Regions from separate parts of the Homo sapiens genome. Here region 1 is linked to region 2. Evidence: fine-mapped expression QTL. A gene starts in region 2. The other region holds a variant in brackets. All regions are shown on one strand. Distances are from middle to middle. Region 1 overlaps PPFIBP2 (PPFIB scaffold protein 2). Region 2 holds the start of CYB5R2 (cytochrome b5 reductase 2).

Evidence for each region. PIP is the estimated chance that this variant, and not a neighbour inherited with it, causes the effect.
Region 1: its variant is fine-mapped to the expression of CYB5R2 in whole blood (TOPMed, PIP 0.98).

Annotation. Positions count from the first base shown.
Region 1 is chr11:7,647,504-7,657,648 of GRCh38, forward strand. PPFIBP2 (PPFIB scaffold protein 2) reads left to right here. Exons shown (of 24, transcript NM_003621.5): 18 at 884-1,034; 19 at 1,297-1,408; 20 at 1,644-1,732; 21 at 2,029-2,151; 22 at 3,337-3,462; 23 at 4,153-4,341; 24 at 5,521-6,253. The coding sequence ends at 5,715. Among named protein-coding and RNA genes, the nearest start is that of CYB5R2, 21 kb to the right of the region's middle. RefSeq lists an enhancer at 3,370-4,569. The variant A/G (reference allele first, on the strand shown) is at 5,201.
Region 2 is chr11:7,668,797-7,678,941 of GRCh38, forward strand. CYB5R2 (cytochrome b5 reductase 2) reads right to left here and starts at 4,704. Exons shown (of 9, transcript NM_016229.5): 1 at 4,623-4,704; 2 at 3,952-4,095; 3 at 3,655-3,727; 4 at 829-935; 5 at 409-538. The coding sequence starts at 4,029. It overlaps LOC105376533 (a long non-coding RNA gene), which reads left to right and starts at 7,664. Exons shown (of 11, transcript XR_007062576.1): 1 at 7,664-7,711. It also overlaps a transcript of OVCH2 not described here. RefSeq lists enhancers at 4,317-4,366, 4,387-4,486 and a silencer at 5,007-5,216.

The DNA.
Region 1 (10,145 bases), 21 kb before region 2:
ACAAGGCCAAACATCTCTTGTTAAGGCAATTCCTAGACGTTTTATAATGTTGGTTGCTATGAGTGGGATTTTTAAATTGTTTTAACAGTAGCATTAGTATCTGTGCATTGATGGTATTAGAAAATTATTGATCTTTGTATGTAACATACGTTACATATGTTTATATGTGTATTTCGTAAGTGGCCACCTCACTGAGCTTTCTTGGGTTTTCTAAATGGGCAGTCCTGACATCTGTAAAGAATGGCTTTATTTCTGCCTAATAGCTATACTTCTTGTTCTTATTTATCTCTAATACTGGCTATGACTCTCAGACCAGTGTTGTTAGTACTGATGAAAAATATATTGTCCTTTTATTGACTTTAATGTGAATGTTCCTCCTGTTTTGTTAATAAGTAATGTGCTAGCTGTTGTTGATTGGCAAGTTTTTGCTTTTAGTTTTGGGTGTTTTGTTTTTTTTCTTTTTAATGTTAAGAGAACTGACCCTCTTAAATGCTAAGAAAAGTAGTTTTCTAAGCATTTTCCTAAAAAGATGATTCCGCCTAATGAGGCCACAGCTCTGGACTTGTGGCATGTATATGTGTGTATGCGGACCTAGGACATGTGAACATGATCTCAGGAGGGCCATACAGGCTGCCCCATTCTCTAAGTAGCCTGAGATTTGAAATTCAGATCTTGTGTTATTAAGAAAACTCTAGGGTCTACCTCCTATGAGTGTGTTGTAGTGGAATTTTGTTCAGCAGAATCCCATGATGGAGGTTGTTTGTTAAAAAACAGGTTTTTTGTTTTGTTTTTTCTTTTCTTTTCTTTTGTTTGTGAGACATGATTAGATTCAGAACCTCAGGCTCTCCCACTAACAGGAATATGCTGTTTTCCTGCTTCCCAGTGACGCCAATGCCCCCTTTGCCCAGTGGAGCACAGAGCGTGTGTGTGCATGGCTGGAGGACTTTGGCCTGGCTCAGTATGTGATCTTTGCCAGGCAGTGGGTATCTTCTGGCCACACCTTATTGACAGCCACCCCTCAGGACATGGAAAAGGTAAGGGCTCAGCTTGGGGAGAGGAGGCTCCCATTTCTCCCCAAAGCATGGGGAGGCCAGGGTCCGCCACTCCTGTCACACATACACACAGGAGGATGGATGGAGGAGGCTGAGAGTTCCTCTGTAGCTGCAGGTTGGCATCCCAGGGCACGGTGTGGAGATACACTGCCATACTCAGAGCATCTCCACCCAGACACAGCTTTCTCTGAGGGCCAAATTGCCTGCCAAAATTTCACATGTGGTCTTCATCTTTTAATTTCAGGAGCTAGGAATTAAGCACCCACTCCACAGGAAGAAGCTTGTTTTAGCAGTGAAAGCCATCAACACCAAACAGGAGGAGAAGTCTGCACTGCTAGACCACATTTGGGTGACAAGTAAGGATAGGCATATATGTATTAAGAATGTCTCTGGCAGCAACTAAGAGTAGAAAGAATTTTCCTGTTAAATGGGTACCTCAAGGACAGCTGTCTCCTTGTAAAAAGCAGAGGAATTACTAAACTTTTGGGGGAATAAAACGAACCTCAAAATATAATTTGCTCCCCTTTTTTTGGTGTCTACATTCTCTCATTCTCATGAATCCTGACACATCTGGGGTTTTTGTATTTGTAGGGTGGCTTGATGATATTGGCTTACCCCAGTACAAAGACCAGTTTCATGAATCTAGAGTTGACAGACGAATGCTGCAATACCTAACTGTGGTGAGGACTTTTTCTTTAAATATTTCAGTTGTCCCTGTGAGCACTCAGCTCACGTGTACCCATGGTGGTTATTTTAAACTTGATTCCATATATTCTTAAGGCCTTGAAATAGTATCATTTGTCACAAAAGAGGTCCCAAGTAGCAGAGTACAAACCACTGTGATAAGCTATTGGTGTCTCCACGTGCACCTTCCTGAGATGTGGTTGACTTGTCTATGCTTGGTCTGGTGAGGGACATCAGGGGTCTTTTGTCACTTTGGAAACTCTGGTTTATAAACCAAACTTTCCTCTTTCAGAACGATTTACTCTTCTTAAAAGTCACCAGCCAACTACATCATCTCAGCATCAAATGTGCCATTCACGTGCTGCATGTCAACAAGTTCAACCCCCACTGCCTGCACCGGCGGCCAGCTGATGAGGTGAGACCACAAATAGTATCTCTCCAGGTAGCCCTGAGCCAGGACCCCTGAAACATCGAGCATGAGCAAACAAGAATGACATCATAAAAGCACTGTTTTTTGCACCATGGTGCCTGGGATTCTTTTGTTTGCTTGTGCTTCCTGTTGCCCCAAACATCCGTTACCTGCACTTTGTGTCTCACAGTAGCCATAGACCTCTAAGCTCCCACCCTCCACTGGGGAGACACATGCTATAAAGTCATCATAGTGATTAAAGGAGATGAGGAGATGGTGCAAAGGAGAGGGGGAGGGAAAGACAAAATGGAAAGATGGGTGTCACAGTAGAAGAGAAGAGAAGAGACAGAGGAGGGGGAAGAGGAGCCCGTAGAAGCTAGACATTTCAGAATAGGTATCCCTACTTGTAGATCCAAAATTAACTGACTTCCAGGCCCAGGTACAGGGGATCCATGAGTAGTCTTGCTAGAGAAGAAATAGTATACGTAAATAACAGCACCCCAAGTCTTGAAGAAATAACTGATTATGTTCCATGAACTTCGGAGTTCTTGGTGGACCCCCAAACTGAAGATTGTCAGTCACATCCTATCTCCTCTGTTCCTGGGAACTAGGTCTAACCTTGCTGTAAAATTAACTCAGCTTCCTGGGCTGCTACCTTTGCTGTCTATCTCCTATTTTCTCCTTATTCAACCAACATGTTTTGAATGTCTTGTATATGTCAGGCACAGCGCTGTGCATTTTTAAGACCACAGTGCTACGTGAGAGCACTTAGGAATAAGTACCTTAAGGTGTGCTCCCCTAAAATCATTGGCCACACCAGGGAGATCTTTCATCTATAAACCACTTGGATTGTAAAATTGACAGTCATCTTTAAAGTTCTGTTGAATCACTGAAAGAATAACTATAATGTCCTCATTTATTTGTCTCAAAGTTAGCTGGAAAATGATGGAGTAACAGAATTCTGGATTCAGATATCTCAGTGTGGAAGATCTTCAAAGATTCAGTGGGAGCTCTATTTCCTAGAAACTGGGGAGGCTGGTGCTCTGGCAGATGGGGTGGGTCACTAAGCTTGAGGGCCTTCTATTGTTGTGATGCGTCTGGGGCAGGGTTACTTACCGGGGCTGACTCCACAGAGGACCATGGTGGGACCTATTAAGCCTAACTTCCTCACTCTCCTTCTCCCTCTGACAGAGTAACCTTTCTCCTTCAGAAGTTGTACAGTGGTCCAACCACAGGGTGATGGAGTGGTTACGATCTGTGGACCTGGCAGAGTATGCACCCAATCTTCGAGGGAGTGGAGTCCATGGAGGCCTCATTGTGAGTGGCTCTCTGGCCTAGCCCACCTGCCTTGGTGCAAATGGGATATTCAGAAACTTATTTATTAAGGACAAGGCACAAAAGCTAACGAAAAAAAATAGGTACTTCATCTGGAGGTCTTGCATAATTTGATGTCTCAAAGTATTTTGATAACTTGTCCTTGAGAATTAATATACCTCATGGAAGCAAGATGCCTTCTGGCAGCACCTCCTTGGCATGAGACTTGAGGATTCTAGGTCGATGGGTTGCATGGAGACCAACGCTTACAAGGCGAGGGAACAGCAGGGCTGAGGAAGGGACGGGGAAGCCGTAAAAATGCAGCTTCCCACTTGCTGCAATAGGATCCCTATCACTACTCAGATCTGTCAGTGGCAAAGCCAGAGGGGAAATGAGGAAGTGTGGTGGCTTGGATGTCATCCAGAGAAGATCCTGAGAGACAGCCTCACCAAAGAGGTCCCAGTTCTCTGCTGGTCTGTGAAAACAAGGTGGTCAGTCAGCACATGTGCTAGTATGTGCTCAGAGCCAGGCCCTGTGCCAGCCAGTGAGTGGAGTGGGACTCAGAACAAGTGACTGAGCTCCTGTCCCTCCTCTGGAGGCACCCCCAGCCCCAACAGGCCAGTCTCTCAGCATCCTCCCCCTCGAGCCATTTGTATTTGCTCCTGGCCAGGCTTGTCTCTGGTTCCTTCTTAGATCCTGGAGCCACGCTTCACTGGGGACACCCTGGCTATGCTTCTCAACATCCCCCCACAAAAGACGCTCCTCAGGCGCCACCTGACCACCAAGTTCAATGCCTTGATTGGTCCGGAGGCTGAACAGGAGAAGCGAGAGAAAATGGCCTCACCAGCTTACACACCACTGACCACCACAGCCAAAGTCCGGGTGAGTTGCAGAGCCTTTCTGGGTGGGCCCTGGGCTGCCTCCTGGCCCTCACGCAGCACAGCACCTGGCGCGATGCCCACAGCCAGAGCAGCATGCGCAGCCTGGACAAAGAGGATCTTTCAGCTTCTGCTGTGGGCTTGTGGTCTGTGAGGCCAGTCTTTGTTAAGCCAGTTCTCCACCAGTTTGGAGTCCAAGGAAGACAGTGCAGGTTTCTTTACCTAGAAAATATGTGCAGGAAGCACCTATCCTCAGGTGGCTTAGAGCTCGTCCTCTACCCCACTGCTGCTGTGACTCACCTTGCAGAGCGGAAGCGCTCCGAGTCTGGCTTTCCTTCGGTCAGGCCTGCCTGCGTGCCGCAATGCCGTGGGATCTTGGTCAAAGCTGTCCTGCTGATATAGGAAGTGCTTCCAATGGAAGCTGGTTCCATTTGTCTTGTTTCGTGAAGTGGCCAGCACACAGATACCCAGAGGTCCCCAGGTCTTTCAAGCACCAACACTACTCACTGGGGCTCCCAGAATCCCACAAAGCCCTTTAGACCTGCCTGAGCCACAGCATCCTCAGACCACATTCTTCCCAGACTACAGACCAACAGGCAACCTCTGGAGGCCAGGCTGGTCCTATCCCTGGTAGTGTTGATGCTTCATGCCCAGCTACAACTCAGGCACAGACCTCCTTCCCCAGGGGAGCAAGACAGGAAGTATGTCTGGGGGAGTCAGGCAGAAACAGTGCTGGATGACGCTAGGGCAGGGAGCAACCTGGGGCTATCCTACGCGCCTTTAGATGGTGCCAGGTGCTGAGATGGGAAAGGGTTGGGGTGCCAGCAGCTGTGCTGAGGCAAGTTCTCTGTGCTTCGCCTCAA[A/G]TGCAGACCTCAAGTACATTCTAAAGGAACTCCCAGTTCATCTATGGAAATAAGAAAGTCACTTTGGTGGGGCAGCCAGGCATGAGTTTCAGGCATAGTATTGGAGGGGCAGCTCTTATTGTTCAAGATTATTTACCTATTGGCCTTTCTGCAGCATAGAAATTGCTTCCAAGAGCTCTGTTTTGTTCAGAGTCTTTCTAGGAGCAGTTTACATTATTCCTCTCCTTGAGTGCCTGCTCTTAAATTTTAAGTATATTGTCAGTCATACCTGCACACTGCCTTGATTGCCTTCTCATAATCTTGCATTTTCTGTGTTTTAGCCAAGGAAACTAGGATTTTCACACTTCGGAAACATAAGAAAAAAGAAGTTCGATGAATCGACGGACTACATTTGCCCAATGGAGCCCAGTGACGGTGTCAGTGATAGTCACAGGGTCTACAGTGGCTACCGGGGCCTCAGCCCCCTTGATGCCCCTGAACTGGATGGGCTGGACCAGGTGGGACAGATTAGCTGATGCCCTTGTCACCTGCCCTCTGTGCACCCTGAGAGCTCACAGTAACACTGTGTGTGTCACCATATAACTGCACCTCACCCCCGCACGTGTGCATGACTCGCAGAGAATATTCCAGCAATTGTGTACCCCTGGGCCAGTCTCTTTGAACCCTGAGGGTGGCCAGGATCTGGAGCTGCATCTCTAAGGGGCCAGGCTTTGGGGACCATTGCCAAAGGTGGACTCAGGAGGAAAGACACTTAAAGACACTTTTACATGTCTAGTAATTCTTGATGTTCATCTTCAGCACCAGTGGAAACACATGAACTTCGATGCAGGTCCAGAGACCATGGACACTCCCACGAGGCTCAGCTCTCAGGCACCCCCTACACTTCAGTTGAGGGAAAAGCTCAAGTGCCTTAGGCCCGTGGACCACAGTCTTGGCTGAGATCAAAGGGATGAGCAACAGGGACTTCTGCCACAGTGACAATGGAATTGTGTTGTGCCTTACTTCAGAGGTGGTCTCTTCTTTCTTGTAATAAAAGCAATATTTATGCGGAAAGCAAGCAGCTCACCATATCTTTAACTTTGTTGGGGAAAAAGAGCTGAGGGTAGCTGGAAATGGAGTCCTACGGATTGCAGAGCTGAAGAGCCGGTGGCACTGAGCCTAGTCCTCAGCCAGGTGCATGCTCAGGATTCACCAGGGGGGTAGAGCAAGGCGGGACCCCCTCCCATAGCCTTCAGAGGAGGTCCGTGGCCGCACTGCTTCAGAATTTGCTTCCCTCTGTGAAGCCGAGGGGGCTTCAAGTCTCATGCACATCCTGACCATAGGGTCCATCTGTCGTGCAGACCTCAAAGCTGAGTGCTTTCAGTGGCATGAGCCCCCCCAGTGAAGGGGATGGTGGGGAGACAAGAAGGCACCTTGCTGGAAAGACTCTCTTTCATGTGTTTTGCTGGCTTCTCTATTACTGACTTAGCTAGGCTCATAACCATGGTGGGGGCTGGTCTGTCTGCTGGCAGAACTGAAAGAGATCTGTCCCCTTGATTTAGAGGCTGACTGACTGATAATGACTGATAATGGCTCCTCCAGATGGGCCTTGTCTGGCTGGGACTGAGGTAGAGATGTGCCTTGCCAGTCTGGACTCCTGGTCAGAAGACTCTAGTTTGCCCCCAGGCAGTGCTTGGCTCCCCTCAATCCCCTGGGCCTCATCGCAGAAGAGTAACACCACGTCACCGCTGTCTGATGGCCTGGGCACGGCCTGATGACTCCATTCCATTGTAGCACTCTGATTCTGTACCAGATGGAGGCTATGCTAAGATTTGCTTCTTAAACTACCAGCAGCCTCAGGCATGGTCTGTTGCCACAGGCCACTGCCTCCTGGGAGGTGAGAGATGTGGGGACAAGCTTGCCAGCTGGCAATGCTGCTGATAGATCCTGGTACCCAGGTCCACTGGATGACAAGTGCTCATTCAGGCTGATGCCTGGCCACTGGAGTTGTAGAGCCAGTCAGGGCAGGCTTTGTCCCTTGTTTCTTATGTTGCGGTACAGGGATCTCTGCATGTGCCTGTTTTCAAAACCTGCATGGAACTGTTGTGCCACTGATTCTCTGCACCCTCAAGTAAGTCCTGTTCCCTTTGTGGGCTTGTTTTCCTACCTATAAAACAAGGGAGGGGTTACACTTGGTGCCCTCCAAATTTACAGAGGATGTTTCCAAATCTACAGTGTCTAAGTAGGTTTAGGGAAGGAGGAAGAGACCAGCATTACCTGAGAAGGAGGGGCAGGAGGGAGGCTCTTGAGTAGTGAGGAAGGATGCCCACCTATGTCAGGGCATTGGTGTCTGAGCTCCTGTTGCCTGGTAGCAGGAGTCTAGCATCCTGAAGGCCTTCATTCCTACTGCTCTCTGCTCCTGGAAATAGCTGGAACATTGAACACGTGCAGAAGGGCTGCTTCTGACAAGCTTGTGTCTTGCCTCTGTGTACCCTGAATGCCAGTTCCCAGTGGGGCCCCAGGAGAGGTATGCATGCAGTGTGGGACATTGATGCCTTTCCCCAGGAAACAGGAGCAGCATGTGCTCCACCCACCTGTCACTCCTCAGGGCCTGGCCCACTCCTTGCCTGTCCCTCCAGAGAAGCATGCCCTGGAGAAGCCAGGCTTGAGCACGACAGGACTTGCATGCCATCTCTCTGAATCACAAGCTGCATCCATGTGTGCTGACCAGGCTGCTGCCCATTTTACAGATGGCACCTTCGGAAGGTACCGTGACGCAGATAGGGCTCCTCTCCCAAGACATTCACCGCCTTACGGTAGGACTCTGACCCTCTCCCCACAGTCAGACTGGTGCCAGGGAGGCCCAGTGAGTTTGGTGTGGTGTGGTGTGGTATGCACAAGGCCTGGGGGACGGCGAAGAATGGTGCTTAGTGCTGGGGTCACAGCCTGAGCCTGAGCCAGCCACGAGGCAGAAAGCAGCCCAGGGGCCTTCTCTGTTGGCCTGTTACTGGACCTTGAGCCCCTAAGGGCAGTGGGGAGGCTCATCGGCTGTTAGCCAAAGCCAGCTAAAGCACACTAGATCTCAGGTCCTCTTCCCAGGCTTAGAGATGAGGAAACCAAGATGCTCAGCAACTCTAGATCACCTGTCTCATCAGCCTAGAGCCCAGGCTGCATCCTGTCCTAGTGGACACTTCCACCCTCTGCCCAGAGACATATGCATTTCCTATCGTGCCTCTGACTTTGTGGGTATCACAGAGTGTTGACAGGCTTGTGAGCACATCCTGGCACGCCCGAAAGGACAAACCATATCATGGGGAAGCAGTTTGGCCTCGAAAAGCAGCTTTGGAGTGAGGCTGAAGTCCCTGCTCTGACTTCACTAGCTCTGTGACCTTGGATGTCATTCTCTCCTGAGCTTTGGCTTAGTTATCTGTAAAGCAGGGCTAATGACATCCTCCTTGCCAGGCTTATAGGCAGACTAGAGCTGGCAGGAAAAGGCCAGCCACAGAGCACAGGATTTGTTTTTGAGGATCCATCACTCCCAAGGCCTTTTAGTTCTTGGACATTCCATCACTGAGCCTATTGGCTATAGTGTCTGTCCCCATCGAGGCCCCTGTCCCTGTACTTTGCTTGCTTGTCTAGCAAGGCCCATTGGGATGACAGGACAAGGACAGGGACACACGACTCTCCTTGTTTTCAAGGACAAAACAGGAAAGTCTCCCTGACTCCAAACAGGATCAGTTTTACTCAACGTTTTTATTTATTGGCCCACCCATGAAAGGAATCTGCCCACACTTGCCCTTATGATCTAGGCCTTTGGTGGCCTGAAAATAGAAAATTTATTTCTAAGATGAACAATTTATTTTTATCTTAATAGTGTTGTTTATTCTGACCCAATACTCAGGGTTTCTTGGGACACTATAAACTTATAGTGCACCTGTGTCAGATGCAGCCCTCACCCAGTGCCCTCTAGTTCCGGTGCAGCTGCCGCAGGGCAGCCTGGACCAAAACTCTATTAAACTGACCCTTCGGCTGTGTCCTTTTCAGACAATGCTGAGCCAGGACCAGCTGCTGAATGACTCTCGCCTGCCTGCCCCCAACTCTGATGACTGGAGATGACTTTCTTCGTGGCTGAGAGCGTAGGGAGGCATGTGTGGGGGCCCCGGAGCCTTTGCTTCTGTGGGGAGCGGGCACACAGCCCCCTCTGCAAGCCCAGTCCGGGCTGGCAGGGTGTCTCAGACAGGCTGCTGACAGGCATGAAGCAGAGCTGTGGGACAGGTGTCCAGGGGTGGCCCCAGGGTCCATGTGTGTCTTCAACCATGCTGCGCTCTTCACCGCAGGCTTCATACCTTTTGTACTTTTATACGTGGACTGCAGACCACTTTGTGGGAGGGCAGTGACATATCAGCACACAGACTCGATGGCTCGTGATATTCCTGGTGACAGCCTGGAGGCTCTCACACTCGAGGGGAAGAGCTGTTAGTTCATAAAACCTGCTGGAAAAAAAGTTCCGAAAAACTGTTTTGAATGTTCTGTAGAGACTGTGTTTTGTGAAATGGTCACCAGGAGGTCCCTCCGGGGCTGCTTCACAGAACGTGCTTTTTCCATTCTTGGGACTGTGGCTGGGCAAGGCAGGTGTTTAGGGTATGAGCGGGTAAAGCAACGAGGCTCCTTACCCACAGCACTGCCTGACTCTATCTCCCGTCATCTGCAAGGGGTATCTGTGCGACTCCCAGCTTGGAGCAGAGGCGTCCCCAACACGTGCACACCCTGCCTTCTGCCTCCACCCAAGCTGACACACAGCCTCCTCCCAGGCCTTGCCCTTGGAGCAGCTCAGGCGTAATGTCTGATTAAATAGCTCCCCCAAGTGGAAGGCCCTTGAGCACCTCAAGCTCCGTGTTTCCACCCCAACTCACCAACTTCCCAAACATGTCTGTTTCCTCTCCACTCTTTAGTCCTTCCTCCCTCC
Region 2 (10,145 bases):
GGAAAAAGAGGGGCAAGCTGAAGTTAACACAGAGACTCAAAGAGCATTCTCACTCACGGAGGTGAACCAGTGAGTAAACAATGGCTATGTGAGTAACCAAGGAGCATGGACTCCCTCCATCCATTTTTCAGTATTAGCAGGCACCATTTATGTATCAGGCATTGTGCTGGAGATTTTGATACAATGACGAGGAAACACCAAGTCATTCCCCTACCTTACAAAAGCTGACAACCTCATGAAGTGGGTGTGTGAATGTGTAACAAGTGTGATCATTATGCATTGTGTGTGAATGAATGAAGACTAAGGACAACCCCATGTGACTCAAATCTGAGGAGTGTACGAGAACAATGGAACCATTGCAGGAATCTTCCTCCCAGCTGGGAGCCCAAGTATTAACCCCTCCAGTACCTGGCCCATGGTAAAACAAGCGTCCCCTTGGCCCTCGAAAAAAGATGGTCTCCCCGATTTTCATGTTCTCCAAATACTGAGTCATCTTCCCACCTTCAGGATATTGGGGGTGTACATTTTTGAAGTAGATCTGAAAAGCAAGGCAGCACTGCTTTCACATTCCCAGACACAATGCCACAGCCACGTACAACTAGAAAATGCATTTACTGCTGGAAGCTTTGCAGAGAAAGTGTTCTCCTCTCTGAATTGTTGTACGCAATCCCTGAAGATGAAGCTGCCACAAGGTTAACTGTAGCTTCACTGCTGGAAAGCCCTGCCTAGGGCATATGTGCCCTCAGAGAAAAAGCACTGCCCCTCCACCCCACCACCCTCAGTAGGCTTGGAAGCACGAGCTAGCCAGATATGGTGGGCACTATTTACCTTTATAATTAGGTCCACAAAGCCTCTGTCATCATCACTGGAGACAGGGGTGTAAGCCCTGACCACCAATTCATTATCGATTTTTGCCAAGAGCTGGACATAGTTACCTATAGAAAAGGCATCAAGCACTGAGTCAAAGCATATTTAGCTTAAATAAGGCCCAGGAATAAAGGACTGAGCTTCAGTGAAGGGAGCAAATACTGGGGGCACAATGTTAAGAGGGGTGGGAAGAAGAGAGCAGGGAAGGAACCCAAATATGGGATGCCCGGATCCTAGGCCTGCCCTGCCTCCCTGTGCTACCCTAGGCAAGTCACTTCACCTCTCTGGGTTTTGGTCTCTTCATCTGTAAAATGGGGGTGATATGTCTGCCCACCTGTGATCTTAGTGTAACTGCTTTTTGGAGCAGGAAAAGATCATTAAAGTTGGAGAGTGAGTATTAAAAATTACAGAAAGGGGTCAGACATGGTAGCTCACGCCTGTAATCCCAGCCCAGAGGCGGGTGGATTGCTTGAGCTCAGGAGTTCGAGACCAGCCTGGGCAAGATGGCGAAACCCCATCTCTACAAAAAAATACAAAAAATTAGCCAGGTGTGGTGGTGCACACCCACAGTCTCAGCTACTTGGGAGGCTGAGGTGGGAGCATCACCTGAGCCCAGGAGGTCGAGGCTGCAGTGAGCTGAGACTGTGCCACTGCATTCCAGCCTGGACGACAGAATGAGACCCTGTCTCAAAAAAAAAAAAAAAATTAGAAAGGAATATTTGTCTATTCAAGAAAAATATGTGGCCTTCACAAACTCCTTTCTTCCTAAACTGGATGTATCACTGAGATCTGTGAATAAATTACAACTACTCCATCTGTATCCTGGTACTAGGCACAGAGCAGGCCTGGGCTCACAGATACTACAGGGCCCTAGGATTTGGGTACCCATGGAGCAAATGAAACAACAATATCATGTCTTCCTGGCCTATGGCCTTGTGAGGAGTAGCAGTGAAGTTTTTAACCATGTAACTCTGCCCTTCCTGGGTAGAATTCAATAAACCAGGTGTGGCCAGAGACCTATGGATCATGACTACATCCCACTGTCAGATGACACACTGGGCAGCTACGACCTGTTGGATCCAAAATGTGAGACTCAAATTACTAAGGCAATTAGTGGCAGGGACAGGAGTGCAATCAAGAGATACTAAGAGCTAGAGGCAAGAGAAAGTTTTGTAACCCTAACCCTTGACTAACTTCCTGTATGTATGTAGTCAGTTTACTCCCTCAGTTTCTACTCGCTCAGAAACTGAGTGGACTACATACGGGAAATTAGTCGAGACAAGGAAGATGGAACAGAGAGATGGATAGAAACCAAGACCTAAGGTGCAGGGAGGAGGAGGAGGCAGGAGGAGAAAAAAGCAGGCAGAGTAGGCACTAGAGGGGCTGGTCCCTGAAGCTGATTCAAGGGGATGAGCCAAGTCTTTGAGGTGCCAACACTCTGGGCTCAGAACAGGCTCAATGACTCTGGTCATGGTCCCTCTGGGCACCAGGGATAGCCAGGAGTAAGTGAGACACCTAGCTTCCTTCTGAGAACCTGAAACTGGAAACCTGGAAAGGCTCTTTCATATGCAGCCACCTAGGCCTGGCCTGAGGGTGTCCCCAGGGCAAATGGGGCTCCCTGGCTGGTCCTTCAAGCCCCATCTCTAACTTGCTTCACTTCCACTGGGCTGGGACGAAGCAGCGAACTCTGAGGCCTCATATTAGACTCTCCCAGAGGCCTCTACATTACCTTGTCCCACTAACTTTGCACGGCCTAGGCCAAGGCTGAGGAGATAGTGGGTCAAGGCAGTTTCTAAGCAATTCTCTATCTCAAAGTTTTTCATTCTTTTAGGCTTCCTGCCAACAGGACCTGCCTGACAGGCCGAGCAGGGAGCTGAGAGACGGCACGCACAACACTGAGCTCTCGTGCATAGAGATGGAGTGAGGGAACAGCAAGGAGGCTCAGGGGCCCAGCGAGCTGGCTAGAGTGTAATCTCACCACCTGATAGAGCTGAGGTCAAGGTTTTGGCCTGTGCATATAAGACAAATAGGCCACGGAGTAGGATCCACCAGGCAGGCAAGCAGCACTAGCAGATTATACAAAGCTGCTCTGAATCCCTGATTCTAGCAGTTTTCTACTGCACTAAGACTGACTCAGCTATCTAGTGGTGTTACAGATTAGAAATGGGATAACTCAACTCTAGGACTCCTAGGGCTGGAATCTGCAACTCGTAGGGCTGGTCCCTCCTTATGTGGGTCTGAGGCCCCTGCAGAGAATCTAAGTGACCTTGGGGGCAGGGCACACCTGACTCATTCCTGCCTACCCGCACATTCTGGGCCTTTCCCCGACCACTGGTTCCTCCCATCCCTCCCAGGTGCACAATACTTTGTAGTTTCTGAATTTTCATATCCATCAGTCACTCTACTTTCACAACAACCCAAGTGAGGTAGACAGGCAGGCCTGGGAAATCCCATTTCATAGACTGAGGCTCAGAGAGATTGAAGGACTTCCCTTAAGTTCCCCAGCAAGGAGCCTTCCATGAGATTTTAGGCCTTTTGGCTCTAGGTTCAGTTCTTTTCAATGCTCACTGAGGTACCACTCTCGTGTCAGCCCAATTGGAATAATGAAGAAAAGAAATTTTCTGTCCCACATCCATCCCCCTATCTATCTCCCTGAGCTCACAGGCTCAGGAGGAGCAAGAGGGCATCTTCCACACCTCAGGACGTGGGAAACCTGTGTTTCTGTTAAGAGAGGAGGGCCTAGCCCCCAGAGGCCCCAGTCCTGGTGATGACCCAAGCCCGGCTCACCTACAGGAAGCCCTAAGACATGGTCCGGCGAAGGCAGTCCAAAGCGGAACCTCCGGGTGTTGTGGCTGATTTTCTGATAAAACAAAACATAGGCAGGTTCTGTCAGCTTTCTAGAAGCCTTGCTGGGCAGCTGAGATGCCTGGGAAAGGAGGTCCGTTTGGCGCTATTCCAGCACACACACACACACACACAGGGCGGCGGGGAGTGAACTGGAGGCCATGAGATGACTGTCTGGATGCCCTGCCATCCCAGCCATCATCCACTTACTGCCTTCCACCCACAGGGCTGACCCATTACCTCTTTCTCAATCAAGGGCAGCGGGTACTTGGCTTCAGGGTCCTGTAAGGTGATTGGCTCTCTCCTCCTGGAGTTCATGCTCTTCAGGACCAACACGAGCACAGTGACCCCAGTGACGGTGATGGTCAGGAGCAGGGACGGGTCCTGGCAGACACAATGTGAACAGAGCACCTCAGGTCTTGCCCGCCCTGGACAGGGCAGCTCTCAGGCGCAGAACACCCTCCCCACACCAAAGGCACAGGAGCTGAGCTCTGCCTGCAGGAAATAGGCAAAGAGAACAGTAGTGACACAGAAGGCGGCTGGGAGAGCCTGTCGTGGACCAGAGGGTAGGGAGGGGTCAGCTGCAGGTCACACAGGAAGGATGTTTCAGGCCCCTGGAGCAGGCAGCACACATGGCCTGGGGTGCTCAGGTCACTAGGCCCCTCCTGGCTACAGCCAAAGGTTCATACACTGGAAGTCCCTTCCTTGAGGTGAAGGGGGAGGACATCACCCCTAACACACAATCCGGAATGAGGGGCCCAGTCCCTAAAGACAGAACTAGGGTGCGTAGCTCTAAGAGGTGCCCCGTGACTTAGGGCCTGGGGACTCCCCAACAGTCTCCTGGACAGGGCGAAGGGGGCCTGGGCACTCAACTGCCAGAGACTCGGGAGCCTCCCCGCATCTGTCCCTACCCTACAAGGCCGCCCTGCTCCTCTCCCAACTCAAGCCCGACAGGGAAAGTTGCCTCTCCTCCCGCCGGGTCACTGGAGTCTCAGCCTTCCGGAATCCGAGCCGGCCCGCCCCACTCCCCGCCCTTCGCGGTCCCGCCCACGACCTCTCCCCACGCCTCCCGCTCCGGCCCCCAACCTCCCGGTCGGACGTTCGTTCCCGGCTCTAGCCGGCCTCCGCGCCTCTGGCCTCTTTCCTTCCGGCCGTCCCGACGGAGATATTTCTTCAATACTCCATAAATACACCCCGCCGCGGAACCCACCCGGAGTGAGACGCCCAACACGTCGTCGAACTGGGGTTGGCCGGGGGCCGCTCCCCGCCGCGGGCCCGCAGACTCGTGGCGTCGCCCCGCAGCTCCGCCTGGCCGACGGGGAACCGGCCGAGACCCGGACACGCACGCCCGGGAGGACAAAAGCGCGGGCGGACCCCGCAGGCTGGGACCCCGGCGGCTGGCCCGCTCCCCGAGAAGGGCCGTGGTCGGGGGGCTCTCACTCACGAGCCGCTGGCTCTGGGTCAGCCCTGCCCCCAGGGCAGCGCTCCATCATGAGGCTGGCGGGGCGCTGAGCCGTGGCGTCCTCGCTCCTGCGCTGCCCCTCTGCATCCTGGCCCCTTCCCTGCACACGCAGAGCTGCCACACTGAGCGCCCCTCAGCTTACTTAAGCTCGGCAAGGCTGGAGAAGGCCGTCTGGGTGACCGGGCGGAGGGGGATGCTGGGGAAGGAAGAATTCAGGCAGCTGCAAAGAGCGCGCGAATATATTCATTCGACATACCTCATGGGCGCCTACCCTGGGCCTGGTCCGGGGCGGGTGTTTGCGGGGTGGGGCCGAAGCAGGGGCGTCGCCGAGTTGAAGACGTGTACTCCGAGCGCTCCTGCGTTCATTCATTCGCTGGGTGGAGAGAGGAAGGACAAGAGCCCCGCGCCGATCGGAGGGGAGCAGAATAGTAGGCACAGTTAGAGGGTCTTCACGGTGCGTTTCGGAACCTTGGCTGCCCGGCTCGCCCTTGATTACAGGCAAAGGCAAATTCTTGCCTCAGGACCTGTGTGAAACAGAGAAGCCCAGAAGCAGATCCCCACCTGTTTGACTCTGCTAGGGCTGCTGTAACAAAGTGCCGCAGACTGAGCGGCTTAAACAACAAAAATTTATTGTCTCGCAGGTCTGGGGGCTGGAAGTCCAAAATCAAGGTGTGGGCAGAGTGGGTTCCTTCTGAGGGCTGTGAGGGAAGGATCTGTTCCATGCCTCTCCTAGGTTTGTAGGAGAGGGGCTAGGAGAAGGGGCATCTTCTTCCTATGTCTCCACATTTTCATCCCTCTGTGTGTGTCCCTGTGTCCAAATTTCCCCTTTTATGAAGACACCAGTCATATTCAATTAGGGTCCATCCTAATGACCTTGTTTTAACTTGATTACCTATGTAAAGGCTCTACCTTCAAATAAGGTCATATCCTTAGGTACTGGGGCTTAGGGCTTCAACATAAGAATCAGGGTGAAAACAATAACCCATAACACTTTACCAACCCTTCTCCCCAAGACACACACCACCACAGGCTCAAAAATTCTTGCTGTGTGAATGAATAAACAAACTTAATTTTCTCTCTTTGACTTAATCAAATGCCTTTACTTTTGATTTACCTGCAGGTGCTTGGTTATTATAGGCAGATATTTTAATTTTTGACAATGCGATAAGTGTAAAATGATGTATCAGGAATCCAATTTGCATTACCTAATAACTGCTAATAAGTTTGAGCACCTTTCATATATTTATTTCCCATGGAGTTTCCTTTTCAGAAAAAAAAAAATGCCTGCTCATAAATTTTGCTCATTTTTCTGTTGTCTTTTTCTTACTGATTTTTAGGGGTTTTATATGTTTTAGATATCCCTTCTTTGCCAGTTACATGAATTAGTAATGTTTTCTCGTAATTTGTAACTTATTCTTTCTTTTTTCTTTCTTTCTTTTCTGTCCCACCTTTTTGTGGTGTAGTCTGATGAATAGAAATTTGAATTGCAGTATAACCAAATATACCAATCTTCAATTTTTTTGCCGTTATGGTTAGTGATTTTTGTGACTTGTCTATTTCTACCCAAGCCCTTAAAGATATTCTATATTTTCCCCAACAAGATTTAAAGATTTTCCTTTCACATTTAAGTTTTTCAACCACTTGGAATTGATTTCTGTGTAGGATGTGAGGCAGGGATACAATTTCATTTTTCCATGTGGCTAATGTGTGTTTTTCAGTAACATTTATTGAATTGCTCACATCTGGCCACTGACCTGCAACTGACCTGCTACCCCTGGCCTATATCAGTTTTCATAGGTGTGTGAGTCTAGCTCCGGCCTCCCATTTCTCTTACATTATCTAGCTGCCCAACCTTGTCGCAATACTACACTGTTTTAGTTACGGTAGTTTACAACAAGTGTTTATGTCTTTCATTCTTATACATTCTTTAGATCTCAGGTCAGATATCACTCCCTTGGAGATGCCTGCTGTGATCCCCCAACTTAAGTACATGTACATATTATAATCTGTTAAGTTTAACTTAAAGCTGCCTCCTTAATGTTTTAGTTTCACCCTAAAAGTTTCTTCGTACATAGTGAACTGTAACCTACTCTTGTATCAATCATGGAAGTTTCAGCCCATTATAGGCAGCCAACTGTTCAGACTGTGTTCAGGTAAGGCAAATCATGAGCTGTAACCAATCCCGCTGTTTCTGTACCTCACTTATGTTTTCTGTACATCACTTTCCTGTTTCTGTCCATAAGTATTATGCAACCACGTGGCAGCCCCAGAGTTGCTCTGAACCTATTCTGGTTCTTAGGGTTGCCTGATTCATAACTTGATTTTTGCTCAATTAAACTCTGTTAAATTTAGTTTTTCTTTTCGTTTAACTATTCTATTCATAGCTTTTTTTTTCTTTTTTCAGAGACAGTCTCACTCTGTTGCCCAGGCTGGAGTACAATGGCACGATCATAGATCACTACAACCTTGAACTCCCCGGCTCAAGCTAGCCTCCAGCCTCAGCCTCTGAGTAGCAAGGACTGTTGCCATCATGCCTGGGTAATTTTTGTATTTTTTGTAGAGATAAGGGTCTCACTTTGTTGCCCAGGGTGGAGAGCAATGGCTATTCAGAAGTATGATCATTGCACAGTACAGCCTGGAACTCCTAGCCTCAAGGGATCTTTCCTCCTTGGCCTCCCAAAGTCCTGAGATTTTAGGTGTGAGCTACCACACACGGCCCTATTCATAGCTTTTACTTTCGTTTGTAATTGTGCATTTGAACAGTGCGTTATTGAATGACTGACTTTCACACTAGTCTGGAAGTTCCTTTATGGCAGACACCTTGTTTTCCTAGGGTTTAGCACACTGACTGTCACAAAGAAAGCATGCAATAAATATTTAATGAACAAATGAATGAATTCATCTCTGCCTTATGTGTGCATTTAGCACACATGATAGACACTCCATAAATACTTCTTCACCTAGGAGAGGAATAATCCTTTCCATCGCACTCTGTCCCCCTTCCTTGCTTAATTTGTCTCCATAAGACATAGCACCAGATGATATATTTTTTTACCTATACAACATATTTTACTTATTTGTTACATAGAATGTAAGTGTATTAATCCATTCTCATGCTGCTATAAGGACATACCCGAGACTGGCTAATTTACAGAGGAAAAAGATTTAATTGACTCACAGTTCAGCTTGGCTGGGGAGGCCTCAGGAAACTTATAAAATCATGGCGAAAGGGGAAGTGAACACATCCTTCTTCACATGGCAGCAGGAAAGAGAAGTGCTGAGCAAAAGGGGAAAAGCCCCTTATAAAACCATCAGATCTTGTAAGAGCTCACTCACTATCACAACAGCCTGAGGGGAATTGCCCTCATGATTCATGATTCAACCACCTCCCACTGGGTCCCTCCCACAATATATGGAGATTATGGGAACTACAATTCAAGTTGAAATTCGGATGAGGACACAGCCAAACCGTATCGTAAGCTTCATGAGGATAGGAGTTACTTTGTCTGTTTTAACTACTGCTATATCCCTAGAACAGTGTCTGGCAATTGGTAGATGCTCAATAAATACTTATTGCATGTATGTATGAATGAATGAACAAACATTGTTTTCCCCCTTGGACTCTGTCAAAAGCTTTTACTTGTAGCTTTGAAATCCGGAGGCACCTCACCTTTTCCTGTGGTTTTCTTAGTAGTTTGTTTCTACCCTTCATTCTTCCCTCTCATTTTCTCTGCCTGTTCCCTCTGTGTTATTAGAGAGGCAGATAGCAAGCACATTCTCTTTATTCATTCTTGGAGCAGGATAAAAGGCATTTTTCTGGGCTCCCAGTAATCTTGAAAGGGCAGTGATTCGCCTCTCTTCTCCTAACTCGTAAACACTGTAAATGTGTCCCTCACATGCTCATGTGCTGCCTGGATTTTGGCTCATTTTCTACTAATCCCCTGAAATAAACCATGAGCACAAGTCTCATGTCTGTAAATCCCCAGCTTGATAATAGGGCCTGGCAAGGGTAGGCTCTCAACAAGCGTTTGCTGAGGAAAAAAAAACAAAACAAGATGAACCTCTGTTGTCACTGTTTGAACATCTGTGAGACTCCACCCCACAAGATTCAGCTCTTCCTGTGCAGGAACGAGGCCTCCTTCATTGCTGAGTACCTCTGGAGGGAACTGATGTCCTGCCCAAGTCATTGGTCAATGAGTGTTTGCCATATGGAAAAATGCTCCACATCACTAATCATCAGAGGAATGCAAATAAAAACCACAATGAGATACCGTCTTGCACCAATCAGAATGGCTATTATTAAAAAGTCAAAAAATAACAGATGTTGGTGAGGCTGTGGATAAAAGAGAACGCTTATACTCTGTTGGTGGGAATGTAAATTAGCTCAGCCACTGTGGAGAGCAGTTTGGAGATTTCTCAAAGAACTGAAAACAGAACTACAATTTGACCCAGCAATCCCATTACTGGATATATCCCCAAAGGCAAATAAATCACTCTACCAAAAAAACACATGCACTTACATGTTCATCAAAGCACTGTTCGGAATAGCAAAGACATGGAATCCACTTAGGTGCCCATCAGTGGTGGAATGGAAAAAGAAAATGTGGTACAGATACACCATGGAATACTACATAGCCATAAGAAACCAAAATCATATTCTTTGCAGCAATGTGGGTGCAGCTGGAGGCCATTATCCTAAGTGAATTAACACAGAAACAGAAAACTTAATGCCGCATGTTCTCACTTATAAGTGGGAGCTAAGCATTGAGCACACATGGACATAAAGATGGGAGCAGTAGCCACTGGGGACTGCTAGAAGGGAGAGGAAGGGAAGGAGGCATGGACTGAAAAACTACTTATTGGCTAATATTCTCATTACCTGGGTCACGCGATCATTTGTACTCCAAACCTCAGCATCGTGCAGTAATATGCATGGAACAAACCTGTGCATGCACCCTCTGGATCTAAAATA